Homo sapiens: one gene and its partners. The protein of the gene in region 3 interacts with the protein of the main gene of each other region in a biochemical or structural test. Each region holds a gene or a part of one and is shown on either strand. Other genes may lie near its edges. The genes, in order: UBE2S, UBE2K, ANAPC11 and PTTG1.

Region 1 (8,399 bases), on a different chromosome or scaffold from region 3:
TTCACTTAAAATAATGGCCTTCAGGACTGGGCGCAGTGGCTCACGCCTGTAATCCCAGCACTTTGGGAGGCCGAGGCGGGCGAATCACGAGGTCAGGAGTTCGAGACCAGCCTGGCGAACATGGTGAAACCCCGTCTCTACTAAAAATGCAAAAAATTAGCTGGGCTTGGTGTTGGGCGCCTGTAATCCCAGCTACTCGGGAGGCTGAGGCAGGAGAATCGCTTGAAGCCAGGAGGCGGAGGTTGCAGTAAGCTGAGATCACACCACTGCACTCCAGCCCAGGTGACAGTGCGAGATTCAGTCTAAAAAAAAAAAAAAGAATAATGGCCATCCAAGTTGCTGAGAATGCCATTATTTCATTCTGTTTTCTGTTTTATGGCTGAGTAGTATTCCATGGTGTATATATACCATATTTTCTGTATCCACTCATTGGGTGATGATGGGCATTTAGGTTGGTTCCGTATTTTTGCAATTGCAAATTGTGCTTCTATAAACATGCATGTGTATGTGTCTTTTGCATATGATTTCTTTTCCTCTGGGTAGATACCCAGTAGTGGGATTGCTGGATCGAATGGTAGATCTACTTTCAGTTCTTTAAGGAATCTCCACACTGGTTTCCATAGTGGTTGTACTAGTTTACATTCCCACCAACAGTGTAAAAGTGTTCCCTTTTTACCACATCCATGCCAACATCTATTTTTTTTTTTTTTTAATTATGGCCATTCTTGCAGGAGTAAGGTATTATCTCATTGTGGTTTTAATTTGCATTTCCCTGATAATGAGTGATGCTGAGCAGTTTTCATATGTTTGTTGGCTGTTTGCAATATCTTCTTTTGAAAGAATTGTCCATTCATGTCCTTTGCCTACTTTTTCATTGGATCATTTTTTTTCTTGCTGATTTGTTAGAGCTCCTTGTAAATTCTGGATATTAGTCCTTTGTCAGATGTATAGCTTGCAAATATTAAAATAATGGCAAAAACCTCGATTTATTTTGCACCAACCTTAATATAAGGTGAGCGATGAGGATCCAGTTTCATTTTTCTACATGTGGCTTGCCAGTTTCCCCAGCACCATTTATCGGGTAGGGTGTCCTTTCCCCATTTTATGTTTTTGTATGCTTTGTTGAAGATCAGTTGATTATTGTGGCATGAGAGCAGAGGAAAAACATGGTTAACAGAGAGTATTCCCTACCTACCACAACATGTAGTTCCTTCTAAAATACCATGTTTTCCTTATTTATTATGTTTCATTTTTGGTTCTGTCTTCCTCAACTACAGTAAGCCCTTTGTCTATCTGTTATCTGATGCATCCCAAGGACAAAGATCTTTGTCTATCTGATCTCTGATAAATCCCAAGCACCCAGATTGGTGCCTGGCACATAGTAGGTGCTCAATAAATATTGGTTGAATGTATAACATCTTCAGTCTGTCTGGCGCCCTGCTAGGGACTGAGGACAAGATCCCTGCTCTGCTGGGGCTAATCTTCTAGTTGGGAAGAGTCAAACACACAATCAGGCAAATAATTGCAAATCCTGATAGATCATGAAGTTCAAAGAGGATGAAGCAAAGAGAGCATGGGAGGGGAGGAAAGAGGAGAGAAGCTGCCGTGAAGGGGTGACGAGTTAGGGTAAACCTAGGAGATGAGAAGAAGGAAAGGGGAAAAGCACGACCGGCACAGAGAACTGCCTGTCCAACTGTCCTCAGGGTAAAAAGCTTGGCGTATTCCAGGAACAAACAGAAAAAGGCAAGGAAGCCTCAGGAGATGGTGCAAGGGCTTATGGGTTTTTGGGGAGTCTGGGGCTTATGCAAAATGTAGTGGGGAGGAGGACTCTTGAGTTTTCAGCTGGGGTGGGGCACGTGGGATATGTGTAAAGCAGGGAGCAAACTATAGCTCAGGGGCCTACTTTGGCCACTGCCTGTTTTTGGAAACACACCCATTAGTTTTCTTAGGAGCTACAAGGGCAGAGTTTAGTGAGTTGGACCAGAGACCAATGGACCACAGCATTGGAAAACCTTTTTGGAAAAGGTCTGCCTTCCCGGTTTTCAGGTGATTATTTAGGGTACAGGTGATCCCTCCCGCTCCCTCACCCCAAGTCCAATCTATACCAGTTGCTGTTGACATCATCTCATCACTTCCCCCATTCCTAATGCCACCAATCCTGCTTGGAGCCACCATCATCCCACCTGAACAAAGGTAATCACCTCCTCATTGGCCTCCCTGTTTCTGTTCATAAGTCTGAAGGAGTCATTCTCTGCTCAAAGCCACCAATGGCTCCCCATTGCTCAAAAAACAGACATACTTTTCACCATGGCCTAGGAGGCCCACCAGCAGCCCCTCACCTCTCCCACCTCAGAGCCCTCTACTTGCTCTGCCTCACTCCAATCCAGCCTCGCTGGCCTCCTAATGTTCCCTAAAAGCACCAAGCACAATCTTCTTGACACCTGCTGTTCCCTTTGCTCAAAATGCTTTTCCCATAGACCTTCCAACAGCCCAAATGACCTTTCCTCAGACAGATTCTCCCTGCCCAGCCAAGGTAAAATGGCAGCCCCATCCCTCCCTCTCAAACCTCCCCCTCCCACTAATTGTTCCTGTCTTTATCACTTGCTGATTGTTCTTCAGTCTTTATCACTTGCTGACATGATGGTATAGACTTACTTGCTATCTGGCTCCCGCACCAGGATGTAAGATCCATGAAAGTCGAGGCTTTGTCCCTTTTATTCTCTGCTGTATCCCATAGCATCCTGACAGCTAGAGTGTAGACACTAATAAAGAAGAACAAATGTATTGAATAAATGCAGGTATCCAGAGGGGATCATAATAATTAATAATATCCACCCATTATGGTTGTTACAAGGATTAAATGACATCAAGCATGTAAAGAAACTAGAACAGGGTCTGGCACACAGCAAATAATACATAATAACCATTAGTATTATCATCATTATTGTTATGTCTTTTGGGTGGATTTTTAAGATCAAGACGAATTTAGCCACTAGCTTTGCCTTGTCCCAGCTGGGGAACCCCGAGCAAGTCACTTTACCTCCTGCTCCTTCAGCTTCCTTGTCTGTTAATTGGGTTGGAATCCTCCACACCCAGCAGGCTAAAATTGAAGATCAGCAAAATGCTTATCGGCAAAATGGGATGACGTTGACTCTAAGCAGGACTGGTGGCATAGCGGATGGGGGGACGTGATGAGATTCAGTAGATGACGTCAACAGGAACTGGTATAGATTGGACCTGGGGTGAGGGAGCAGGAAGGGATCACCTGAAGCCATTTCTCCACAAACTAGTTATGATGATGACTTTTTATGCTGTAGCTGTTTCTTCAGTTGTTTTGGGTTTGTTTGTTTTGTACATATTGGTGGGGGTCTCTCACTATGTTGCCCAGGCTGGTCTTGAACTCCTGGGCTCAAGTGATCGACCTACCTTGGCCTCCCAAAGTGCTGGGATTATGGGCGTAGTCACTGTACCCGACCATGTAGGTTTTGTTTTTTGGTTTTTTTTTTTTTTTTGCTTTTTTGTTTTTTGAGACAGGGTCTTGCTCTGTTGCCCAGGCTGGGGTGCAGTGGCGAGATCTCAGTTCACTGCAACCTCCACATCCCGGCTTTAACCGATTCTCCCATCTCAGCCTCACGAGTAGCTGGGATTACAGGGCTGCATCAACACACCTGGCTAATTTTTGTATTTTTAGTACAGATGGGGTTTCACCATGTTGGCCAGGCTGGTCTCAAACTCCTGACCTCAGGTGATCTGCCAGCTTCAGCCTCCCAAAGTGCTGGGATTACAGGCGTGAGCTACCACGCCTGGCCTTGGCCATGTAGATTTCTTTCACACCTTCCTTATTCCTTCTTCAGAAGCTGAGGCCCCATGAGGGGAAGCTGGTAGCCAGGGGTCTTTTCAGGTACCTGTGGCCAAATTAGGCCCAGATGTTAATGCTCTCATCCATGGCTGAAAAAGGCCAAGAAACTAAGAAGAGCTGTGGACGCACAGACTGGCAGAGACACCGAGAGGGCACTGCGACCGCACTGCACAGATGAGCAAAGGAAGGCCAACTTCAGCATTCCCTCCTCCTCTCTAAGCCCCTCCAAAAGGCCTGCTCAGGGAGCTCTGGCCACCGTTCTCAAGCAATTGCCTGACGTTTTTACTGACACTGAGGGCTGGAGATGGTCCCTTTTCCAGGCAGCTATGTGTCCATTTCCTAGAGAGGGAAACTGAGTCCCAGAGAAGGCGGGTGTGGCTGGAGGCCATGGGTCAGTCATAGGCATAACCATGCCGTGAATAACCGTCTTGGCACTCTCTGACTTCTTTCCCTGGCAATACAACGGATCCCAGTGCCCATTTGTCACATAAGGAAACTGAGGCTGGCGTCTTCGATGAAGCCTGGCAGGAGTGGGGGTCACACACGGAGTGCAAGGCTGTCCAAGCCTTCAAGGTCATTCTGACTGATCTTTGAGCCTTAGCAATACAGGACGTGGGTCCAAGAGCATTTCCAGCACAAAATGGCGCCTCATAGAAAAATGTAGTCGGAGTTCCAGCGCCCACCTCCACCACGGCTCAAAGGAGGGGGCGCGGGCGGCAGCGCACACTTCATTTGCATATACAAAAATCAACGGATTTCGTTGGCTGGCAGCGGTTTGATCTGCACGAAACTGGGTCGCCCTCTGACCGGTCTCTATCAGTCATTGGCCCATGCGAGTCTCGTGACCCACCAGTCACTAAAGCGCATCCCTATTGGCCCGAGCGCCTTCCATCACGCGTTTAAAACCCCGAGTCCCGCCTCCCCTCGCCACGCTCCGGCCCCCAGGAAGACCGTTAGTCGCGTGCGCGACTTCCTCAGCGTCAGGGCGCGCCCGCGCGTATGCCGGGCCGTGGCGGCGTCTCATTCAAACGGTCCAATCAGCGGCCGCGTCGCCTTCCCCGTCCCCCTTCCTCTCTTCTTCCCCTTTTCAGCCCCTCCGTTCTTTGAGAACCCTCCCGACCCCCGCGGGCCCCCATTGGCCGGCCCGCTACCCAGCCCTCTCCGCCACTTCCCTCGCTTCTGACCATAGTTTGCGGGGAAGGGAGCGAGCGCGTCGAAAACCAAGGAACGTGCGCGCTGACGTCACGGTTGAGGCTCGGAGCTGAGGGGCCGCGGAGGGCGTGGCCTGCGGGCGGTTATAAAGAGGCAGTGGTGCGCGCGCGGCCGGCTCAGTGCTGCCGGGCACCGGGGCGGCGGGTTGGTCTACGCTGTGCGCGGCGGACGTCGGAGGCAGCGGGGAGCGGAGCGGGGCCGCCGGGGCCTCTCCAGGGCCGCAGCGGCAGCAGTTGGGCCCCCCGCCCCGGCCGGCGGACCGAAGAACGCAGGAAGGGGGCCGGGGGGACCCGCCCCCGGCCGGCCGCAGCCATGGTGAGCACGGGCGATGAGGCCCATGAAGGTGGTCGGGGGTGTCCCTGAGGGAGGAGGTGGAGTCTCAGGGGCCTCCGACGGGCGGCCTTGAGGGGTTTGAGGGCCAGCCTGGGGGTCCCTGACCCGGGATGGGCCCGAGGGCCTTCCCGCAGGCGGAGCAGGAGCTCGGGCGGCCCGCAGTCTCCCTGGCGGCGAGGGCTCCGGGCGCTTTGCGGCCCGCCCATGGGTGTTACCAGGAGCAAGGACGCCCCGCCGCCATCTCCAGACCTGAGCCGGGGTTTCAAGGATGCTCTAACCAAAAATTAGTGGAGAAGGGGGAGAGAGTAGATCTCTGGCCTACGTGGAACCACTGGGGACCAAGCAGGGTTAGGAGCGGGCTTTGGGGGGGGGGTTCTGGGGTGGGTGGAGTTATCTGCAAGCCCCCCCGTGAACCCGCCCCCATTTCTGTTGGAAACTCTGCCTGGGCTGATGGCCTGAAGCATCCTGGGTGAGGGTCTGGGAGTTCAAGGGTGATTGACAGCCTGGGGCCACTGAGTCAAGACTTGGGCAGTCTCAGCATCTTTAGGCCCTGCGGGAAGCCCAGCTCTTAACACTCGCTCACCCTGCTCTCCCATCCGTGCCCAGAACTCCAACGTGGAGAACCTACCCCCGCACATCATCCGCCTGGTGTACAAGGAGGTGACGACACTGACCGCAGACCCACCCGATGGCATCAAGGTCTTTCCCAACGAGGAGGACCTCACCGACCTCCAGGTCACCATCGAGGGCCCTGGTGAGTTTGGAAGGAAAAAGAGAAGGGGCTGCTGCTTAGATCCTCCATCACCCTGCTCTAGATCACCCTAGCGGGAAGTACCCATTACAGGCTGGCCTCGTGTCAGGTGTTGGGATGCATTGGTGGACAGGGCAGGACGCCACAAATGACAATTATGTACTCTTTTCCCACAAGGGTTGAGAAATATCTGGTCATTGAGTTAGTATATCATGGGACGGTACTCTAGATTTGAAGCAAGGCTTTCAGACATGGCTTCCCTGGACCTGAGGGTGGGTAGGAATTAAGTAGGAATGGGAAGAGAGCTCCAGGTGGTGGGAATGGTGTCAGCAAGGGCCTGGGAGGGTGGGCCAGGTGATCTCAAACTCCATCCTGCTGTGAGTGTCAGGGATGAGGAAACAAGCCAGATGCAGATCGTGGGGAGACGGGTCATGAATGATTTGCGGGTCACATGATTTGCGGAGTGATTTAGAATACTGTTTCATGCAGGCTACATTTCTGTTATCACCAGAATTCCTACAAAGTCAGGATTTGAGCAGAGCCTGTGAAGGAATGGTCTAGTCCACGGTGGTGATGGTGGTAGGTGGTCAGGAAAGACCTGGCAGCGGTGACAGTTGAGGTCCTTCATGCCTTGCTGCAGAGGGCGCGGGATCATGACAATAGGAAGGCTCCAGAAAGGCCCTTGGGCAGGTGGAGCTGGGCGCTTGGTAAAAACACATGAAGAAAGTTGATGATGAAGCTGCCAAGCTCTTTTAGGGCTTCTAGGCCTCTTCAAGGAGTTTGTAGAGGAAGCTGGTGGAAGGTTTAAAGCAGGGGTGTGACAAATCCCTCCAAAGTTCCTATTGACTGTAGTGAGGAGAGCCGGCCTGGCAGGGGGAAGAACCCAGAGGCCAGCCAGGAAGCTAGCCTTGGAGATGGGATGAGATTCAGGGGAGGACCTAGCAGGCCGGTGCTCAGGCTGCTGATGGGCTAGGGGAGGGACAGTATTTTGACCCAAGCAAGTGGGTGAGTGGGAGAGGCGTTCACTGGGTTGGGAGGCTGTGGAATTAACAGACAGTTGGATCCTTGATCTGAAAGGCATATAAATGGGCATCTTATAGGAAAGTGCGTACTTGGGTCCCTGCCACCTGGGAAGGGCCTGTGACTGGAGTGGTCAGTTGGGCTGAGACGGGGGATCCAGGAGGGTGCAGACGAGCTTGATAGTGACACAGGTGGGGGCTGCAAGATGGGCATCATCTCTGAGGTTTTGGGGGAGGTCCTGTGGCCCCCTAGGAACCCAGCCATTCTTGCTCTTTTTTTTTTCTCTCTCTAAACGGAGTCTTGCTCTGTCGCCTAGGCTGGAGTGCAATAGCACAATCTCTGCTCACTGCAACCTCTGCCTCCTGGGTTCAAGCAGTTCTCCTGCCTCAGCCTCCCAAGTAGCTGGGATTACAGACGTGCACCACCATGCCCAGCTAATTTTTTGTATTTTTAGTAGAGATGGGGTTTCACCATGTTGGCCAGGCTGGTCTCGAACTCCTGACCTTGTGATCCGCCCGCCTCAGCCTCCCAAAGTGCTGGGATTACAGGTGTGAGGCACCGCGCTTGGCTTTTTTTTTTTTTTTTTGGAAACAGAGTTTCGCTCTTGTTGCCCAGGCTGGAGTGCAGTGGCGCGATCTCCGCACACTGCAACCTCCCCATCCCGGGTTCAAGGGATTCTTCTGCCTCAGCCTTCCGAGTAGCTGGGATTACAGGCATGCACCACCACGCCTGGCTAATATTGTATTTTTAGTAGAGACGGGGTTTCTCCATGTTGGTCTGGCTGGTCTTGAACTCCTGACCTCAGGTGATCCACCCGCCTTAGCCTCCCAAAGTGCTGGGATTACAGGCGTGAGCCACCACACCTGGCCTCTTGCTCTTAAGAATTCTACAGCCTGACTGGGCATGGTGGTTCACGCCTGTAATCCCAGCACTTTGGGAGGCTGAGGTGAACAAATTGCTTGAGCCTAGGAGTGCAAGACCAGCTTGGGCAACATAGTGAGACCCTATCTCTTAAAATAAAAAAGTAGCCAGACCTGGTGGCATGCCCGTAATCCCAGCTACTTGGCAGGCTGAGATGGGATCACCTGAGCCCAGGAATTGCAGGCGGCAGTGAACTGAGATTGTGCCACTGCACTCCAGCCTGGGTGACACAAGAGACCTTATTTCAAAAAAAGAAAAAAAGAATCCTCCAGTCTGTTGGCAGAGTTGGCGGGGCACCCACCT
Region 2 (7,569 bases), on a different chromosome or scaffold from region 3:
GAAAGTCAGTCTAAAAGCAAAAAACATAAGAGTAGATATGTTGTGTCAATCAGGTAACAATATGGAATTCTAACCAAAAAAAATGAAGATATAGGCCGGGCACGGTGCCTCACGTCTATAATCCCAGCACTTTGGGAGGCCAAGGCGGGCGTATCGCGAGGTCAGGAGTTCGAGACAAGCCTGGCCAACGTGGCGAAACCCCGTCTTGACTAAAAATAACAAAAATTAGCTGAGCATGGTAGTGGGTGCCTGTAATCCCAGCTACTCAGGAGGCTGAAGCAGGAGAGTCACTTGAACCCAGGAGGTGGAGGTTGCAGTGAGCCGAGATCGTGCCATCGCACTCCAGCCTGGGCAGCAAGAGCAAGACTCCGTCTCAAAAAAAGGAAGATGTAACCTGTTCTTTAGGGATTTTGGTTTAAAAAATCGAGAGGATTTACTGTATTTTTAACATAGGTTTGAGAATATAAGTGGAGAGCCCATTTGCTGGCAGGCACTTACGAATGTTAATGTGAGTCCCACTGGATGGTTTTCTGAATCATTTAAGGTTATCATGGCTCTGAGAATGGACTGTCATAAGGTTAAGAGACTCAGTAATGCTATAGATAGGAAAGTACTTGGAGTAGTTTAAAGTGCAAAATAAGTCAATGTAGATAAATTTAAAGTAGAAATCTGGTTTTTTGAAGTAGGTAGTTGCCGTTTTAATAAACTAAGCAGAAAAACAAATTGAAGAAGGCCTTTTCTTTTGAGGCATTTAGTCCTCTGGAATTTTTCATGGAAAGGAGAATCTGTTAGGTAGCTAGAGCTTTCACCATTCTGGTGGATAGTGTACTATTTCAGTCAGTTAAACTAAACATTTAAAGTTGTTATGGTTAGTTCAAGTGAGAGTTTATGGCCTAAATGGCTTTTAATGACCCTGAATTTTCTGTTTAAGCAGAACCCATGTATCGTGGGGGTATAGTGCAGAATATAATATCTTAGTGTTCATCTGTGGATGATTAGATTTATCGCTTTGGGCCTGATATACATGGAATTGGCAAACATAAAATAGCTTTTATACTATTTTTCCCTAATAACATTCCTAGAAAGTCAAGAAGCCATTGTATTGTTGTTCATAGTGGTGTTATTTCGTTTAAAACAATGAAGTTAGAATTTATTAGTTTGTTTTAAATATTCTTAAAACTGGATAATTAAGTCCTAGAAAAGCCGAGACTTATTTTACTAGAGCAGATAATCAAGCTTATGAAAGAGGGGGTTTCAAGATTTTTTATAGGTAATACTTTAGGCGTTTTTCTTGCTGACATAACTAACATTTATTTTCTGTTTATTTTTAAGACGAGCAAAAATCAAATTAAAGTAGATCTTGTAGATGAGAATTTTACAGAATTAAGAGGAGAAATAGCAGGACCTCCAGACACACCATATGAAGGCAAGTACTTTTTTCTGTATCAAAATATTGTGCGTATTAGAACTTGTCTGAAACATTTAATCAGAATAATCTTAAACATCTATAAATTATATGGAGGGTAACTTCATTTGGTTTAGATAAACAGCAATTTAAAAAATACTAAATTTAGATACTGAATATAGACTGGTATTTCTTACTGAATTTTAGCTAATTTTTTTCTTTCCATAAAACAGTTTTAGCAGAGCTTTGTTACAGGTATTATAGGTTAGAATTTAATAGAATAAAAGATCTGGCATGGTAAACCTCTAAATCATATGGACTGTAGACACTCAGTTACCCTTCATATGGTATCTAAAACAGACCTTGCCTTAAATATCTCATTGGTAAAATGTTGCTTTTGTTTTTAAAGTTCTTCTTTCTGTCATTCAGCATTTCATTCACTCATGTCTTCATACAGGCTGTAGTCCAAATGTTTATTTTCTTTATTCAGGAAAGCTTTTAGTGATTATTTCAAGCCATAGAAAGGAGGTGGCTTTGCTGAACTTGGTGTTCACAAATTAAGTCTGTAGCTACTTTAGACCATGGAATCGGGTGGTAAGATACAGAAATAAACCTTATAGCATTTTACTTTCTTATTAGGTGAGTCTTCATTAATTAATATTACTGTAAATTTAGATTATATAGCATATAACCAAGGCTCTTGCATTAATAACTATTCAAATATTTGTTTATTAGAAAACATATAACAATATATGGTAACCCTAATTATACAGTCTTTACATGTATTTTCTCATTTAATCCTTTCAGCAAATCTTACTAGGTAAATACAACGATTGCTGTTTCATAGATGAAGAAACAAGTTAAGAGAAGTAACTTGTTTAAGGTCAACCATCTAAGTAGCACAACTGATAGCCTTTGTCTTCAAAGCCTGTGCTTTTAATCACTTTATGTAAATCAGAATTGACTTAATATTGGAAGTGGTGGTGATGTCTGTTTTGTTTTATCTATTTTTTTATATGCAAAGTTTTACTGTTACCCAAGCTGGAGAGCAGTGGCATGGTCATAGCTCATTATAAATTTGAATTCCTAGGCTCAGGTAATCCTCCAGCTTCCTCAGTAGCTAGTACTACAGGTGCATGCCACCATATCCAGTTAAATACTTTGTGTGTGTTTTTTGTTGTTCATTTTTTGATTGTTTGTTTTTTGAGACTGAGTCTCTCTGTCACCCAGCCTGGAGTGCGGTGGTGAAATCTTGGCTCACTGCATCCTCCATCTCCCAGAATCAAGTGATTCTCCTGCCTTAGCCTCCTGAGTAGCTGGGATTACAGGCGCACCACCATGCCGGCTAATTTTTGTATTTTTAGTAGAGACAGGGTTTCACAATAACGGCCAGGCTGGTCTTGAACTTCTGACCTTAGGTGATCCGCCTGTCTTGGCCTCCCAAAGTGTTAGGATTACAGGCGTGAGCCACCAATCCCGGCCACCAGCTAAATACTTTCGAGTGGTTCTATAATTCTGTAATGAACAGTTACCCAAAACACTTTTTTTTTTTTGAGATGGAGTCTCGCTCTGTTGCCCAGCCTGGAGTGCAGTGGCGCGATCTCGGCTCACTGCAAGCTTCGCCTCCTGGATTCACGCCATTCTCCTGCCTCAGCCTTCCGAGCAGCTGGGACTACGGGCACCCGCCACCATGCCCGGCTAATTTTTTTTGTATTTTTTTAGTAGAGACGGTGTTTCACCGTGTTAGCCAGAATGGTCTCGATCTCCTGACCTCGTGATCTGCCAGCCTCGGCCTCCCAAAGTGCTGGGGTTACAGGAGTGAGCCACCGTGCCCGGCTACCCAAAACACTTTTTAAAAATCTAATATTCTTGAATATTTTCTTGTTTTTAATCCAGATTTTTTAAGACCCTAGAATGTCTTTAGCATATTATACCAATTCTGTTTATTCATTTTTTTTTTTTTTTTTTTTGGGAGACAGAGTCTTGCTCTGTCTCTCACGCTGGAGTGCAGTGGTACGATCTTGGCTCACTGCAACCTCCGCCTCCCGGGTTCAAGCAATTCTCCTGCCTCAGCCTCCCGAGTAGCTGGTACTACAGGCGCCCGCCACCATGCCCGGCTAATTTTTGTATTTTTAGTAGAGGCGGGGTTTCACCATATTGGCCAGGCTTGTCTTGAACTCCTGACCTTGTGATCTGCCCACCTCAGCCTCCCAAAGTGCTGAGATTACAGGCGTGAGCCACCGCACCGCACCCAGCCCATTTTTTTCTTTCTTTATTGGAGAGATGGCATCTTGCCAAGTTACCGAGGCTGGTCTCAAACCCCTGGCCTAAAACAATCCTCTTGCCTTGGTGTCCCAAAGTCTTGGGATTCTAGGCATGAGCCATTGTGCCCAACCTTGTACCAATTCTTAAGTGATAAAATTTTATTTTTTGTTTTATAGTTCATACGAGCCATTTCTAGATATTTAATTTTTTATGCTGTTTATCGAGTGCTTCCTATCTGCTTGGCTTGGTCTGGCAGTTTTCATGGATGCTGTTTCATTTAGTCCTTTTTGCAATCATTAAATGTAGAGGAGACCTTTAGTTATCTTTAAAAAATCAGATGCTTGTCCTAATAGCAGATGTTTTTATATAATAATATACTAGCTTCTTCTTGAAGTCAGACCTTATAGTTATTCTTGAATTTTTTTTTAGGTTGTTTTGAAGTATTTTTGGAAGATAGTAGGGCAGTGACATTATTCTAGAGGTCTGTCAGCAAAGTTTTAAATTTTTTCATTGATTTTTATAAACAAGGCACTTCCTGAGCTAAATTAGATAGAAGCAATATTTAATAGGTAGATTAATTTTTTTAATTGGATAATGTATACTTATATACATTAAGATATATTAAGATACACTAATTAGCCGGGCGAGGTGGTGGGCGCCTGTGGTCCCAGCTACTCGGGAGGCTGAGGCAGGAGAATGGCGTGAACCCCGGGAGGCGGAGCCTTCAGTGAGCCCAGATCGCGCTGCTGCACTCCAGCCTGGGCGACAGCGAGACTCTGTCCCAAAAAGAAAAAAAAAAAGATACATTAAGATATATTCTTATGGCCGAGTGCGGTGGCTCACACCTGTAATCCCAGCACTTTGGGAGGCTGAGGCGGGCAGATCACGAGGTCAGGAGATCGAGACCGTCCTGGCTAACACGATGAAACCCCGTCTCTACTAAAAATACAAAAAAATTAGCCAGGCGTGATGGTGGGCGCCTGTAGTCCCAGCTACTTGGGAGGCTGAGGCAGGAGAATGGTGTGAACCCGGGAGGCGGAGCTTGCAGTGAGCCGAGATTGTGCCATTGCACTCCAGCCTGGGCAACAGAGCAAGACTCCGTCTCAAAAAAAAAAAAAAAAAAAAGATATATTCTTTATTGGTTAGAAACAAGTTTGGTCATTTTTTTTCTTTTCTTTTTCCCGATACCGAGAATGGGACCAAAAGTTTGGTCATTTAAAAGTGCTTATATCTGCCTGGGCGGGGTGGCTGATGCCTGTAATCCCAGCACTTTGGGAGGCTGAAGCAGGTGGATCACGAGGTCAGGAGTTCAAGACCAGCCTGACCAACGTGGTGAAACTCCATCTCTACTAAAAATACAAAAATTAGCTGGGTGTGGTGGCGTGCGCCTATAATCCCAGCTACTCAGGAGGCTGAGGCAGGAGAATCCCTTGAATCCATGAGACGGAGGTTGCAGTGAGCTGAGATCGCACCACTGCACTCCAGCCTGGGCGACAGAGGGAGACTGCATCTCAAAAAAAAAAAGTGCTTATTTCTGCTGCTGCTGCTGCTAAATGAATATTTTGATAAGATTAGATTTAATATGCTTTTTATATATTTGAGGTAGAGTAACTTGAATTCTGTTATTTTATATAAAACTATTGAGAGAAGTTCATTTTGTTAAGGAAAACACCATTCAAGGACATAAACTTTAATGCTTTTTCTTTTAAATGTGACGATAGGTTAAATGTTTATTGCAAGGATGTTGCAGTTTTTTGAGTTTTTAAAAATCTAAACTTAAATGCTAAAGCAAAAGTTTACATGTGGAATGTTAAGCAATTTATAACCATTATTAAGTAATGAGGCAGCTGTTTTTGTAGTATTTAAAGAATCAGATTGTGAAGTAGAGTACTCACGGGAAAATGCCATATTGTGGATGTTACTTAACTCAATTTTCTTCACTTCTTTTGCCTTAATAATTCAATGACAAAGGAACAGTTTAGTTCTTGAGCTTTTCTTCCTAAAATTTCTTTTAGGTTTATGGAATCATTGTTGACAGCTTAAAAATTCTCATTCCTTCCTCATCTCCTCTTTGGGTTAAGTTAAATTTAAAGATTGTTAATTTTTAATATTAAAAGCTATTCTTCAAGAAGTTAATGTTTTAAAGTAAAAACTATTATAATATGAATAATATAGTTATCATAAGGATTCCTTAGTTGTATTACCCTGATCAAATAATGCTATGATTAATGCTAAGTGGTCATATATTGAAAGTTGTCAGAGCGTGTAACATAAGGGATAGAAATAAGATTTTAGAGACTCTCGAGTCCAGCATTATTTATATAATATCTGTGGGCCCTCACACTGCTCCTAAGAGATTATTTTGGCCATTAACAAAGAACTTTGTATGATGGGTTATAGAGATGGTTTAATCTGGAGTTTAATCAGAAAAAAAAAATTCTTAGGAAGGAAAAAGAAAAGCCTATGTAGTGCTGAAGCCAAATTTATTATAACTATATTTGAAGCTGGCATTTCTAATTCTGGGTATAGACAGTTATTGTCACAAAATTTCTTCAGGTACCCTTCTCTTACCTGTCAGTTTTTTTTTTCTTTCCACTACTTTTCTTTAAATTTCATTATTGTTATATGTTCTGTGATTCAGGCATTTAGTTCAACTCATGCATGAATCACTATGGGATTCTATTAAAAAGAACTAGCCACGAGGCATAACGGCTCATGCCTGTAATCCCATTACTTTGGGAGGCTGAGGCGGGTAGATTATTTGAGGTCAGGAGTTTGAGACCAGCTTAGCCAGCATGCTGAGACCCTGTCTCTACTTAAAAAAAAATTAAAAAATTAGCCAGGCATGGTGGCGCGCACCTGTAGTCCCAGCTACCCAGGAGGCTGAGGTAGGAGAATTGCTGGAACTGGGAGGTGAAGGTTGCAGTCAGCCGAGATCGCACCATTGCACTCCAGTCTGGGCAACAGAGTGAGAATCCGCCTCAAATAAAAAGTAGCCAGAAGAGAGGCCAGGCGCAATGGCTTATGCCTGTAATCCCAGCACTTTGGGAGGCTGAGGCAGGCGGATCACCTGAGGCCAGAAGTTCAAGCCCAGCCTGACCAACATGGTGAAACCTCATCTCTACTAAAAATACAAAAATTAGCTGGGCATTGTGGTGGGCACCTGTAAACCCAGTTACTCAGGAGACTGAGGCACAAGATTTGCTGGAACCTGAAAGGTGGAGGTTGCAGTGAGCCAAGATTGTGCCTCTGCACTCCAGCCTGGGCAACAGAACGACCCTGTCTCAGGAAAAAAAAAAAAAGAGAAGGATTCGAAACAAAAAGGGCTTGAAGAAAATAGTACCACTTTTATTTTTTCCTCAGATTCATAGTCATCCATCCATTCATAACAATGGAGGAGTGAGGAGATACATTTGAGAGAGTCTAGAATATACTGAAGAAAGTCTCTTGTTTGACTTTTTGAAGAGCTGAGTGTATAGAATTTTGAAGATAATGTTCCTAGCACACAGTTTTTTATTTTACTTTTTATTACAGGGAATTTCAGATATATAAAAAAGAAGAATAGGCCAGGCGCAGTGGCTCATGCCTGTAATCCCAGCTCTTTGGGAGGCCGAGGCGGGTGGATCACAAGGTCAGGAGATTGAGACCATCCTGGCTAACACGGTGAAACCCTGTCTCTACTAAAAATACAAAAAAATTAGTCGGGCGTGGTGACGGGCGCCTGTAGTCCCAGCTAATCGGGAGGCTGAGGCAGGAGAATGGCGTGAACCCGGGAGGCGGAGCTTGCAGTGAGCCGAGATCCCGCCACTGCACTCCAGCCTGGGCGACAGAGCGAGACTCCGTCTCAAAAAAAAAAAAAAAGAATATAATGAAACCTCTTCAGCCAGCTTTAATAACTA
Region 3 (6,602 bases):
AAGTGCTGGAACGGCGTGGCCACTTGGCTCTGGGTGGCCAACGATGAGAACTGTGGCATCTGCAGGATGGCATTTAACGGATGCTGCCCTGACTGTGAGTGTCCCCTCCATGCTGTCTGAGCGGCCCCGACTGTGAGTGTCCCCTCTGTGCTGTCTGCTGCCTGCTGGACTAGCCTCAGTAGCTCCTGTTAAATACCTGCACGAAATACCCAGTTTCATTTTCTTTTTTTTTTTTTTTTTTTGAGACCGAGTTTCGATCTTGTTTCCCAGGCTGGAGTGCAATGGCGCGATCTCGGCTTGCCGCAACCTCTGCCTCCCGGGTTCAAACGGTTCTCCTGCCTCAGCCTTCCAAGCAGCTGGGATTACAGGCATGTGCCACCATGCTGGGCTAATTTTTTTATTTTTAGTAGAGACGGGGTTTTGCCTTGTTGGCTAGGCTGGCCTTGAACTCCTGACCTCAGGTGACCTGCCCGCTTCAGCCTTCCAAAGTGCTGGGATTACAGGTGTGAGCCACTTTGCCTGGCCCACATTTTTATTTTCTTTTCTTTCTTTCTTTTCTTTTTTTTTTTTTTTTTTTTTGAGATGGAGTTTCACTCTTGTTGCCCAGGCTGGAGTGCAATGGCGCGATCTCGGCTCACTGCAACCTCCGCCTCCTGGGCTCAAGCGATTCTCCTGCCTCAGCCTTCCAAGTACCTGGGATCACAGGCATGTGCCACTACACCCGGCTAATTTTGTATTTTTTAGTAGAGACAGGCTTTCTCCATGTTAGGCTGGTCTCGAACTGTCAACCTCAGGTGATCCACCCGCCTCAGCCTCCCAAAGGGATGGGATTACAGGCGCGAACCACCGTGCCCCCCCCAACATTTTCATTTTCATCTCATGAAGAAAAGTTGATAGAAAAAAAGCCAGGTGGTTGGTACCCATGTTTATATAAAGATCCTGTCACAGACTCCATAGGATGAAACTCAGCTGTGAAATACGTGGGATTAAAAAGAGATTAGAGTCTGGGCGGGCAGATCACAAGGTCAAGAGATGGAGGCCGGCATGGCGGCCCACGCCTGTTATTCCAGCACTGTGGGAGGCCGAGGCGGGCGGATCACAAGGTCAAGAGATGGAGGCCGGCACGGTGGCTCACACCTGTCATCCTAGCACTGTGGGAGGCCAAGGTAGGCAGATCACAGGGTCAAGAGATCAAGGCAGGGTGTGGTGGCCCACACTTGTCATCCCAGCACTGTGGGAGGCTGAAGTGGATGGATCTCAAGGTCAGGAGATTGAGACCATCCTGGCCAACATAGTGAAACGCCATCTCTACTAAAAATACAAAAATTAGCTGGGTGTGTGGCGTGTGCCTGTAATCCCAGCTACTGGGGAGGCTGAGGCAGGAGAATCTCTTGAGCCTGGGAGACGGGGGTTGCAGTGAGCCAAGAGCAAGACTCCATCTCAAAAAACAAACAAAAAAAAGATTAGTTTAAACTTTTTATTTGAAAATTCTCAAAATTGAATGGCATAGGCCAGGCGCAGTGGCTCACACCTGTAATCCCACCACTTTGGGAGGCCAAGGCAGGCGGATTGCTTCAGGCCAGGTGTTCGAGACCAGCCTGGCCAACATGGCAAAACCCCGACTCTACTAAAAATCCAAAAAAATTAGCCGGGCATGGTGGCAGGTGCCTGTAATCCCAGCACTTTGGGAGGCCGAGGTGGATGGATCACCTGAGGTCAGGAGTTTGAGACCAGCCTGGCCAACATGGTAAAATCCCGTCTCTACTAAAAATACAAAAAAGTAGCCGGGCATGGTGGTGCATGCCTGTAATCCCAGCTACTCAGGAGGCTGAGGCAAAAGAATCGCTTGAACCTGGGAGGCAGATGTTGTGGTGAGCCAAGATCGCACCATTGCACTCCAGCCTGGGCAACAAGAGTGAAACTCCATCTCAAAAAAAAAGAAAAAAAGTGGAAATGTTTGATTATGTTTAGGTTGAAAGCAGAGTTTTGCATCAGCGAAATGGTTTTTCATGAGACCGAAATGAGCGTAAAGCAGAAGCAAGGGTCAAGGTTTTGCCCAGGGAGGACAAGAAGAACTCCCCAGAGGACAGTGGGGAATGGAGAGGACAGTGGGGAATGGGGAGGACCGAGAAGCTACTCACTACCCCAAGTAACCAGGCGTATTTTTGTAGGGCCAGGTGCATGCCCATATTGATTGACAGGGTCTCACTGTGTTGCCCAAGCTGGACGTGAACTCCTGGGCTCCAGCCATCCTACTGTCTCAGCCTCCCAAGTAGCATACCACCACACTCATCTGCCTCCTTTGCTTTTTTTTTTTTTTTTTTTTTTTTTTTTTTTTGAGATAGAGTCTTGCCCTGTTGCTCAGACTGGAGTGCAATGGCACCATCTCAGCTCACCGCAACCCCCACCCTTCTGAGTTCAAAGGATTCTCCGGCCTCAGCCTCCCAAGTAGCTGGGATTACAGGCATGCACCACCACAGCCAGCTAATTTGTTGTATTTTTATTTTTATTTATTTATTTATTTTCGAGACAGAGTCTCACTCTGTCACCAGGGCTGGAGTGCAGTGGCACGATCTTGGCTCACTGCAACTTCCGCCTCCCTAGTTCAAGTGATTCTCCTGCCTCAGCTTTCCGAATAGCTGGGACTACAGGCGCTCGCCGCCATGCCCAGCTAATTTTTGTAGTTTTAACAGAAATGGGGTTTCACCATGTTGGCCAGGATGGTCTCGATCTCTTGACCTCGTGATCCGCCCACCTCAGCCTCCCAAAGTGCTGGGATTACAGGCATGAGCCACTGCGCCCAGCCCTTGTTGTATTTTTAGCAGAGACAGGGTTTCACCATGTTGGCCGGGCTGGTCTTAAAACTCCTGACCTCAGGTGATCCGTCCACCTCGGCCTCCCAAAGTACCAGGATTACAGGTGTGAGCCACTGCACCCGCCCCTGTCTTTGCTTCTTAAGGTGAAATTGAGATGACTGAATCTTAGTACAATTTTTTTTTTTTGAGACAGGGTCTTGCTGTCACCCAGGCGGCAGTGCAGTGTGGCAAAATCATAGCTCACTGTAGCCTTCAATTCCTCAGCTCAAGTGATCCTCCCACCTCCACCTCTCAAGTAGCTGGGACCACAGGCATGCTCCACAATGCCTGGCTAATTTTTTATTTTTTTATTTTTTGTAGAGACAGGGTTTTGCTATGTTGCCAAGGCTAGTCTTGAACTCCTGGGCTCAAGGGATCTGCCTGCCTTGGCATACCAAAGTGCTGGGATTACAGACGTGAGCCACCATGCCTGAACAAAACTACATAAATTTTTAATTTTTTTTGTGGAAATGGAGTCTCACTATGTTTCCCAGGCTGGTCTCAAACTCTTGGCTCTGTCCTGCCACAGCCTCCCAAAGTGCTGGGATTATAGGTGTGGCGCCTGGCCCGTACAAATACTTTTTATTCTAGGCTTAACTTTTACATTGGCCCTAGCTAAATAGAAATCTCATCACTCAGGAATTAATCCTCATTTAATCAAACGGGTAGGGTGTAATCTTAGGAAATTATTGATTGACTCTACCTGATTGGATTTGTAGTTAATAGCTAATTAGGTTAATAACTAAATTCACAAGGCACAGTTTTATTTGATCTCTTTTAAATTGCTCTTAAGGATGTAACAAAGAGTGCGTGGGATGCCCTGAGGGCAGGCATTCGACTTCTGGAGCAGCAGCTTAACTTCTGAAATTCCTCCGAACCATGTGTCCACACCTCGTCTGGCTGCATCCGTGGGCCAGATGTGGGTGGTGAATCCTGTGGATTAGAGGTGGTGCTAGGTAGCCCCCAAGTGACTGCAGTGGTGGGTCCACAGGCAGCCTGCAGAGCCCGCCCTGCAGCATGCCAGCTGGGCCTGTGATGGGGCATCCAGAGGGTGTTGCCCTGAACACTCAGCATGTCTCCGCTGACACAGTGTGCTCAGGCTTTGTTAACATGGGGCCTGTTGGCTGCAGAGACTCAGGAGTTGAGAGTCTAATTTTTGGACCTGCTGATGGTTAAGTCATAGTGAGTCAGTGTTAACGCGCAAAGCGTTTGACGAGTCCAATGTGCTTCCATACTAAGCAGCACCAGGTTTCTTTTGCTAAAATTGAACTCCTGTGAAAAATTCAGAGTGACTAAGTTCATTCAACAAAGACCGTGGGAGCCCGAGGCTGGTAAACAATGAGTCCATCCCGCATCCCAGGGGACTCTGGTGGCAGTGCAGTTTTGCCGAGAGGAGTTTTAATTTAAAAAAATGCAATCAGGAGACCAGCAGGTCCTGGAATGAGTCACCCTCAGTGCATCTGCGGACTCATCAGACACCCCAGGCCGGCTTCGGGTGGGGAATGCACTAGAACGAAGTGACACCTTTGACTAAACGAGGCCTCCCCCGAGTACTCAGAGTGGCCCAGACCCCTCTCCTCAGGGGGCTAGCAGGCTTCAGCTCTCATTTGAAAGGGCCGATATCAAGCAGAGTTGTGCTGAGGCCAGAAACCCCCACGGGCAGGTCCTCCCAGGGCTGGGAGTGGGCATGCCGTGGGGCCGGCGCTGCCAGGACAGGAGGGTGGCCACGAGCTCCAGCTCCACAATGCCAGGCCGACCCTGCCGTGGGGCTGGGGCTGGGACTTGCTGTGCTCTGTTGGCAGCAGCTGTTCCTCAGGGGTTTCCAGGCTCTTGGAGATCAGGGACACTCATTTCTCTTGATCATGGCTGATACAAGCATCCCTCTCTGTGTCAGGTCCTCTCCATGGAGAAAGCATTTCTAGGTGTTTGGGCTGGTGCCCGCAGCCTGTGCCTGTCCTGGGAGGCAGGGCCCATCCACAGGTGCCCATCAACACAGCTTCCCCAACGCCTGGGCAGCACACCGGATCCCTGATGTCTAGGGAAGAGTCTTCTAGGTCCCCAGACCCCACCCCTCCTGCCCTTGATCAAGAGACCAGTTCACTACTCAGATGCACGTCTCCTTGGTGCCTTGACCATTCATGTGACCTTTTTGGCATCACAGATCAAGTGTCTGCAGATGGGCCCAGGGCCTGTAGGTCAGACATTGCCCTTTTTCCCCAGCCTCAAGCACAGGGGACACAGGGTGGGCTAGGCCAGAGCGCCACCTCCTCAGAGAGGCCCCTGGGCTCCCCACTGAGCATGATGAGCCTGGGTGAGGGGAGGCGCCTGCTGCGGTTGCCCCGGGTGGAGGCCGCATGTCCGGTGTCCCTTGGTCATTGCTGGTCTTCGCCTGGGGGCGGGCTGGTCAGGAGACCGATTGGGTAACACTCCTGATTTCGGCTTCTCTGAAACATGAGAGGCTGCAGTGCTGGAGCCACTGCCCAGGGTCCCTACCTGCACCCCTGCCTGGCTTGTCACATGCTCTGTGTCCAGCCTGGTCATGCCTGTCCTTTTCCCCACCTCCCCTCCGTAGGCAAGGTGCCCGGCGACGACTGCCCGCTGGTGTGGGGCCAGTGCTCCCACTGCTTCCACATGCATTGCATCCTCAAGTGGCTGCACGCACAGCAGGTGCAGCAGCACTGCCCCATGTGCCGCCAGGAATGGAAGTTCAAGGAGTGAGGCCCGACCTGGCTCTCGCTGGAGGGGCATCCTGAGACTCCTTCCTCATGCTGGCGCCGATGGCTGCTGGGGACAGCGCCCCTGAGCTGCAACAAGGTGGAAACAAGGGCTGGAGCTGCGTTTGTTTTGCCATCACTATGTTGACACTTTTATCCAATAAGTGAAAACTCATTAAACTACTCAAATCTTGCTGGAGGCCTCTGGGTGCCTGTGTTCTCGGCATATAGATGTGGTCTCGGTGTGTTTTGATATGAAAACTCTCATGAATAAACATCTCCGTGAAACGCCAAGGCCCTCGTCAAACCCTGAGTCATGACTGGGAGGAGAAGGAGCAGGATCAGACGGTAGAGCCTGGGGCATGCTCTTCAGGCATGCTCTTGCCTGCTGGATTGCCGGCGGCGGCCCTGGGACCCTCCCTCAGGCTGGCTCTGAGGGACCCTGGCTGTGCAAAGCTGGCGGCCACTGCTTGTGGCGCCTCCAGACTGAAGGCCACCATCTCTGAGTGGGCGTCCATTGTTCTCACTGGGACTGTCTGCAGCGGGGCTGGGCCTCCCACAGTGTAGGGATCAGTGTCCTGACACTGGGAAGTGTGTCCACACGTCTGAGGCTTCCCTTCCTAGGGAAAGGTGGCCCTGGGAGGCTCCTTTGTGTGCCTCTGCTCCCCACAATCGTGGTGGGAAGGGGCCGCTGGGGGAGTGGCAGCCCCGGCATCTCAGGCTGCTTCTGGACAGAGCACAGGCTGTGTCTCCAGTAACCTAGGGAGCCCTTGGCATTCATGGGGCCAGTGACCCGTGCCCAGTGTCTCTTGACCCTTCCTCACAGCAACCTGAGGAGTAGACCAGGCCTCACCTGAAATCTGTGTCAGGGTTCTCTAGAGAGACAGGACTCTATATGAAGAGTATATATGAAGAGTTTATTGGGAGTATTGACTCACGTGATCACAAGGTGAAGTCCCACAATAAGCCATGTGCAAGGTGAGGAGCAAGGAAGCCAGTCTGAGTCCCAAAACAAAAGTAGAGAAGCCGATAG
Region 4 (7,444 bases), on a different chromosome or scaffold from region 3:
CCAGAACAATCTGAATGCAAATTAGTAAAATAACTACATGACCTCTTTGGCTAAATAAAAGGGTAAAAGATCCAGCTCAGAAATCCGTAAGGCCCTCCCTGATCTGATCCCACACCTCACCTGTATCCTCCTTTACCCTGCCTGTATTTTTCCTAGAACCACTTTAGTCTCTTTTCCTACCTCACGATCTTTGCACCACTTTGACCTACAATGCTGTTTTTTCTGGCTCACTCACAGTGAGATGACTTGTCCAGCATCTGACTTTCCCTTCAAATTATGGGCTCCCATAGGCAGGGCCCATCTTGTTAAACAGTGTGTCCAGGACCTAAGGATGCCTGACACACAGTAGCTTCTCCTGAAATGGTTGAGTAAATTAAAGCTTGAAAAGCTGTTTCCAAAACAGAAAATACTTCAGATACATGTAGCAGGTTGAAGAAATTTGAAAAACATGTCTTCACTGTCTTATGTAGATTTTTCAAACCAAAGAAATAATCCTACCAAATTACTCTCAGGCATTGCTCAACTTGACATAAAGCTCACTTCTAAAAGCCTTGTGAGAAAGACTGTCCACAATGGGACTTATTCAATGTTCATGAATACATCTTACCTCCTCTAGGTGATAAGCTTTTACAGACAGGAACAATGTCTTCTACATCTTTGTTCCTATTCCCCTCCTGACCTAAGATGATACCTTGCAAATAATTCCATCAACAAGTACACTTGTCCAAAGCAACCCAGATTCAGACAGTCTCATCATAGTTTTTGGTCATATATTATATTCATAACAAGTTACAGCTGAGCTGAATACTAAGAAACTAAAGGCCAAAAGCACTTTTCGCAATTGCAAAAGATACTACCTAGAGGATTGAAGGGAAAGAATTTTTCTATTTCTGGATAGGCATCATCTGAGGCAGGAACAGAGCTTTTTGCTTTAACAGTCTTCTCAGTCATCTAGAACAGCCAAAGAAAATATGGGTTAGTGACAGTGGAAGTCTTATTAGCTGATTAGTTTTTAAATTTGTCAATTTCATGCTGCCTTCTAAGAAGCCATAATCCTTAGTTTTCATAATTGCACCTAAATATACTTCAAATAATATGATTCAAATGTAATTCGAGTAGCATGACTCAAAAGTTAAAATCTGAAATTTAAGTACCAGCACCTGTCAGCATAAGTGATCAAGAATGCAGTTAATTCAGAGCTAATCAATGCAATTATTCAACCTAACAGAGGAGAAAATGGGCATGAATCACCCAGGATAGTAGCTAATCATCAAAGCCATTTTTGGCTTATAGGAGTGTGATTTTTTCCACAAGTGTTACCTTAAATTATTTGCTTGGTTAATATTAAAAACAAGTTTGTGTTCCTCAAATACACACACTGAGTAAGAGGCAGCAAGACACTGTCAAGGACTTTAGAATAAACACCATGGGCAATCTTCTAGTCTGGAGTTGACAGGTCTACTACAGTCTACTATAGAAGGGTGCTACAATGGAAGCCGGCATGTTCCTGCTTTATCTCACCTCACATATGCATGCCTAGAATTCCCTATGGGGTTCTCACACTTCGGTTCTGTGTCTCATTGTTTTTGCCATGTCTTTGCAATTCCTGTATTTAATATTTTTCTTTAAGTTAATTCACTTTTTAAAGAAGACATCTTTGTCCTAAGTTGCACTATATGTAATTCACTAGTTGTTTCCTAATGCAAATTAAACAAAACAGTTATTCAAATAAAGTGTTAATCCACATGCTAATGTCATCTTTCACAGCAAAGTCCTCTCATCTGGGATACACAGACCTGTAGCTTGTGACTCACACTCACACGAAGATCAACATGCTAGCAAATTGTCACCTAACAAGCTGCTGCTTGCCCTGGAAGGCTAAGAGAATGGCAGCACCTGTGCTATTAAAGCAGCAACAGAACCTCTTAAGGCACCCTCTCTCTCAGTATGTATCTGTAAGTGGATACCACCAACCAGTTTCTCTTAAGGCACCCTCTCTCTCAGTATGTATCTGTAAGTAGACACCACCAACCAGTTTCACGACACTAGTGAAGGACAGGTGAGGCAAAAATATGCATGAGGCAAAAATATGCATTAGCTGCATCTGAGATTTCCAATCTCAAGGTACCAAGAAGTCCACAAGGACAATCTGAGTCTCCTCCACTACTCTGCTTGCTAACCTCTATTTCCCTTCTACTCAGAGGGAAGAAAGCTACGTAGGATGATGCCAATAGTCATTTTAAGAGTCAAAAGTGCTTAAGTGTTTAAACAGTGTCTTTATAGCCAACACTTACCTTTTTGGCAGAAAAGCTTGGCTGTTTTTGTTTGAGGGGTCCCTTGGTCTTTACAGACTTTTCTGTAGCTCTGTTGACAGTTCCCAAAGCCTTTCTAGTAGCTTTAGGTAAGGCTGGTGGGGCATCGAACGTTTTGCCAAAACGTGGTGTTGAAACTTGAGATCTCCCATCTAAGGCTTTGATTGCTGAAGAAAAAGTCTTACCATAAGAATATTCCAGCAGCAAAATACCTGTACAACTTAAATACTGTGTATATAAACTTGACCTCTCACCCCCAAACCCACCCCCCACTTTTGGTAGTGGCATGGCTATGATAGGCCTAATAGCAGAGATTCAGTAACTTCCTTAAATCATCTCATTAAGATATTAAAAATGAAAAAGGACCAATAACAAACGACTCCAATTGCCCAAAAAGTACACTAAATGTCTCGTCCAGCTCCAGGCCACGTCCACAATACCAGTGTATCCGACTGCAGCCTTGTATACTTACAAGGTCCAGACCCCAGCTTCAGCCCATCCTTAGCAACCACACGGGTGCCTGGTTCTCCATTTTCCTTATCAACATAGATCAGAGTAGCCATTCTGGATTATTCTAAGAATGAGAAATACATATTAGATATTGGGGAAGGTGGGAGAAGCAAAGGTATAGCAACATACCAAACTTTCTATCCTAGGAGTGTCCACACAAAAAACAAGAGCTAAACAGCGGAACAGTCACGGGCGTGAGCCAACAAGTACTTAATCCAGCTCTCAAATCTTCCAGCCTGAGTCAGAGGCTCTAAGGTCCCGAGCAGCGCGCGGTTTGGGGCTGGCACTCATCAGACAGTTGCCGTTGGTCCAGTTAGCAGTCCGAGACCACGCTCAAACGGGCTCGGAGCCATCTAAGCCCCGGGCAGTCCCCCAACCCCAGCCCCAGCTTCAGCCCCAGCCGCAGCCGCAGCCCGCCTCCTTCCCCGCCGGAGCCGGCTCAACTAACCACCCGCGACCCTCCCATTCACTCACGCAGGTCTTAACAGCCGCATTCATCTGAGGCCGCGGTGAACGGACGCGGCGCACTCCTGGTTTAAACCACAACTCGCGGCCCAATTGGCTCTTCCGCCCAGGAGGCGGGGCCGTGGGCGTGGTCACCAAGTAGAACCAATGGAAAGGACCTAAGCAGCCAGGGCTCCGCCCCAAAAGCTCTTTCTTGCAAACTTTGTGGCACGTTTTCTGGGAAGAAAAAACTAGGATCGTGTAATATTAAAAAATAAATCGAGAGGCTTTTTTTTTTTGCTCTCCATATTATTAAGCTGCATGGACTGAGGTACTGACTCAATAACAATGGTTTATTGCTTTAAGATATTTTTATTTAGATGACCCTGTAAAAAGGATGGAAAATAAATAGAAATATTGAAGAAATAGGGGAAACAACCAATGTTGGGTCTAAAGAATACTAGCAGAGAAGAATTTAAAATTAAGAAGAAATGTAAGTACAGGTAGATCAAACAGCAGCGTTTGAGTCATTCTCTTATGCTTATGATTAAGAACGAACTGATCGTTCCCTAATCTTAGGACTATCCTCAATACTTCAGGCTAAGACACTGTTTCTATTATACCATCACGAATCTGTCTTAGGAACAAAATTATGATTCTAATGAATACATAATTTAGTCTTCCCTTAAAATTCTATCCTTTGATAGTGATTTATTTTAAACCTCTAACATCTCAATAATATATTAACCAAAGTTGCCTGGAAGGGCTTGGCCAGGGAGCAAGAGAATATCAGAGAGATAATAAAGATATAAAAAAGGAATTCCAATTTCCCAGATATGAAAAGAAATTTTGCTTGAAAAAGTTGACGACCTTTTCCTGTTTCTATAGTAAAATGGAATACATTGAACAACTACAAGATGAAGATATAAATTAAAACATAAGGCTGACCTGTGTCATTCAAACTCCGCTTCCCACAGTTCACCATATATGCATTTTAAGCTGCAGATCAGCTGAGAGAGAGGAGTTGATTCCATATTACTCTTTCACGAAAGGCTTGACACTATACCTGACATAGACATGGTTCTCAATATATGCCAGTTCATCATCTCTTTTTCCCTGGCATTTCAGGACCAATATTGATTGAATGATTCATTCATTCACAAATATTTATTGAATACCTATTAAATGCTGGACATTATACTAGGTTATAAGAAAAGAGCCTAACTTAAGGTGAAGAAAAGAGGAAAGACAGAAAAATATGCATACCTTTATTGTCCCTTCACTGTTCTTTTTCCTTTATCCCCATCCTTTATTTCCTCCTGTATCTCCTAAATTTTACATCATCATATTATATTATCAGCACTCAAAGTGTTAATTTTTAAGACTAAATCTGCACAACACCTATAGCTTCCAAGTGGGGATTCTCTATCTACAGAGGTTTTGAGGTGCAAGGTTTGTCTTAGGATGTCTTCTTTTTTTCACCAACAGAAAGCATTGTTTCTCCTAAGGTCATGCAGCAGCTGTAAACCATAACCACCCTCTCTGAATAACCACTGTTTTCTTACTAATGATGCCCTCAGACCAGCTTTGCTATTCCTATTACTGGAAATACTCAATTGCTAAACCACCCTCACTCATAACAGCACTTAGTCCCTAATCAGTTTCTCCCAATCCTTCTTTACAAACAGCAACCCATCCAGAACCAATCCCGGCTTTCCTAGACCTTCCTCAGAACCCTCCAGAGGGACCTCAAGTCTTAGAAAAGATTCAACTGTCTTGTCCTGCGCTTTCTGATTCCTCTTCGAGATGCGCTCTCCTGGTGGTTTTGGCTAATTAGGCCTTAACACTCCTAAGCAAATTTCAGGAATATTTTTAAGTGGAAAAAAACAAAGCCTGAGTGATTCATAGACTCTATTCACTTTCACGCTAGTCTCTGACACTGTTTCTTCATCTACTGCCCTGTAAAAGCAAAATTAATATTTATGTTCCTAAACTCCAGGTATTGCAAATTCTTAATACGAAAAAAATAGATTCTATTATGTTGGGCTATTTTATTGAGGCAGGAATGGTAGCTACTTTTACTTTTACATTCAAAAAGGATACACGTTATGGGGGGGAGGGGGAGAACAACCAGAATAGAAAGCACAAAGAAAAAAAAAAATCACAAGAAATTCTACCACGAAAATTAGTTTATTTTCCAGTGTTTTATTTCACATGTATACTTTTAAAGAAGGGATGGGATAGCATAGATACTGTTTCTCCAAAATGGAAATTGTCGTATTTTTTTCTAATGATAACATGCCTTATGTTCTCACAGCACCTGGTATTCTTTTCATAGCAACTTTTCACAGCTGCTAAATCTGAATAGTTGTTTCGGTGTCTTTCGCACTCTGATGTAAATCTGAGGGAAGACACTGTTCACCAAATCCCCAGCATGTTACACAGCCTGGCTACTAATTAGTGCCAAGTTTAACTGCTTTTTTTTTTTTTTTAAGCTGATACGTCACCAACTTCCCCATTCATTTCATAGTCCCCTGGTGAGGCTTAAGCTCTTGTCTGTTCTGGTCTTTTTTTTTTTTTTTTAACTTCCTAAAATTCTCCGATTCTAAAAGAAAGCTCCTAAATAGAAGCCAAAAAGTAGCCGCCCAACTTGAAACTCCCCACAAGCCGGGTAAATAGCGCGATACGCAGCAGCTAGAGTTCTCGCGTTTCCCACGGCGCAGGAGCACTGGAGGGCCCCCCTCCGCCCCCGGCCCCGCCAGGAAATTAGTGCGCATGTGCCGGTCATCCGGAAGTTACCGCAGTGGCCGCCGGAATTAGGCGAAAAGCCGGAAGTAAACATTACGAGATTGGCTTGGATTCTGTCGGATGGACTTGGGGCTAGCTGCGGCGGGGCTGGGTAAGAAAATATTGTTAGAACTTGCGGGCGACGGGGAGTTGGGGAACCTGAGAAAATGAGTCGAAGGCTCCTAATTATTGGATATATCTTCACGGGGGTGATGAGCCCTCAGGTGTTGAGGGAGCGAGGACGGGGGACCGAAAAGCCACTGTCCTGAGACCCATTCATGGCACTCGTGCCCTGCCAGGCCAGGCCTGCGTCTTCAGGGAAACAGTCGGGATAACTATGAGAGTGTCGCCTTTGTGGCGGTGCCTCGAAGACCTTGAGCAATCCCCGGACTGCGAGCAGGGAAAGCTGCTTCCAGTACCCAAATTGACAGACTGTATTTCCTCGCCAGAAAAATTTACTTGAGCTTCAGTTTTTCCTGTTAAGTCGAGATGATCCGACTTCAGTGGGGTATCATGCGGGTATAAATGAAAACATCTATGTAAGTAAAGCGCTAAACAGTGTCTTACGTAAGCCCTCAGTAAGTGGGAGCTATTACTGTTTTTAGTTGGAGAAAATAGGTCCCTCCACAGCGACGGAAACTAGTGCGTACAACTTGGTGACTATAATACTTTATTCAGTTTTAGTTTTTAATATTTTAGGCCCAGAAGCCAATGTTCTGTGGACAAGTATAACATACTGGTTTAGAGAACTGACTTTGGAGTCAGAGTTGTGTTTGAAGTCCTTATTTCTTACTACAATGTGTTCTTGGCTGAGGATCTTACCTCTCAGAACCTGTTTCTTCACTGTAAAATGGTGTTCATCAGACCTATCTACTGGGCTTATTGTGAAGATTAGATGAGGTGATACACGGTAGGCTCGAGAAATGGTAGCTGTTTTAATAAAGATTAAATTTACCGTTGTTGTGCTTCTCTTCGCAGTATATTTAGGCCATCAGTTTATATGTTACACAAATATATGTGGAGGTTTTCTATAGGTCAGACATAGAAGAGAACACCTTTGAGAAGCATCGTAGACCCCCAGGCATTGAGCACTTTCCACTGGGAAAGAGCTTGTGTAAAGGCCCAGTGTCTACAGGGAGCACGGTTTGTTAGAGGAACTAGAGGAACTACAAGAAGGTCTATGTAGTTAGTAGAGAAGGAAGCGGGGATAGTTGTAATGGTGAGGCTGGAAGGTAGGCAGGTGCCAGACCATGGTGGACCGTGTAGGTGTGTTAAAAAGATGTCAGTTTTTAGAGTACGAATGATAAAATCCTTTGGAGCGTCATTTTTTTTTTTTTTTTTTTGAGACGTAGTCTAGCTCTGTCGCCCAGGCTGGAGTGCAGTGACGCAAT

Evidence for each region.
Region 1: the proteins of ANAPC11 (region 3) and UBE2S form a complex in vitro, tested with the Homo sapiens proteins (31 studies listed by BioGRID).
Region 2: the proteins of ANAPC11 (region 3) and UBE2K form a complex in vitro, tested with the Homo sapiens proteins (3 studies listed by BioGRID).
Region 4: of the proteins of ANAPC11 (region 3) and PTTG1, one has a biochemical effect on the other in vitro, tested with the Homo sapiens proteins (3 studies listed by BioGRID).

What each region holds. Positions count from the first base shown.
Region 1 is NC_000019.10:55,404,574-55,412,972, reverse strand, and holds the start of UBE2S (ubiquitin-conjugating enzyme E2 S), read left to right. Parts: upstream 1-5,184; 5' UTR 5,185-5,383; coding exon 5,384-5,386; intron 5,387-6,010; coding exon 6,011-6,158; intron 6,159-8,399. UniProt on the Homo sapiens protein: Accepts ubiquitin from the E1 complex and catalyzes its covalent attachment to other proteins. Catalyzes 'Lys-11'-linked polyubiquitination.
Region 2 is NC_000004.12:39,736,088-39,743,656, forward strand, and holds part of UBE2K (ubiquitin-conjugating enzyme E2 K), read left to right. Parts: intron 1-1,332; coding exon 1,333-1,426; intron 1,427-7,569. UniProt on the Homo sapiens protein: Accepts ubiquitin from the E1 complex and catalyzes its covalent attachment to other proteins. In vitro, in the presence or in the absence of BRCA1-BARD1 E3 ubiquitin-protein ligase complex, catalyzes the synthesis of 'Lys-48'-linked polyubiquitin chains.
Region 3 is NC_000017.11:81,894,493-81,901,094, forward strand, and holds the end of ANAPC11 (anaphase-promoting complex subunit 11), read left to right. Parts: coding exon 1-94; intron 95-4,749; coding exon of another isoform or gene 4,750-5,050; intron 5,051-5,427; coding exon 5,428-5,573; coding exon of another isoform or gene 5,574-5,658; 3' UTR 5,659-5,763; downstream 5,764-6,602. UniProt on the Homo sapiens protein: Together with the cullin protein ANAPC2, constitutes the catalytic component of the anaphase promoting complex/cyclosome (APC/C), a cell cycle-regulated E3 ubiquitin ligase that controls progression through mitosis and the G1 phase of the cell cycle.
Region 4 is NC_000005.10:160,417,744-160,425,187, reverse strand, and holds the start of PTTG1 (securin), read right to left. Parts: upstream 3,334-7,444; 5' UTR 3,297-3,333; intron 3,279-3,296; exon of another isoform or gene 2,887-3,278; 5' UTR 2,876-2,886; coding exon 2,785-2,875; intron 2,480-2,784; coding exon 2,295-2,479; intron 952-2,294; coding exon 858-951; intron 1-857. Other genes in the region: pre-mRNA-splicing factor SLU7, read left to right, coding at 6,135-6,165. UniProt on the Homo sapiens protein: Regulatory protein, which plays a central role in chromosome stability, in the p53/TP53 pathway, and DNA repair. Probably acts by blocking the action of key proteins.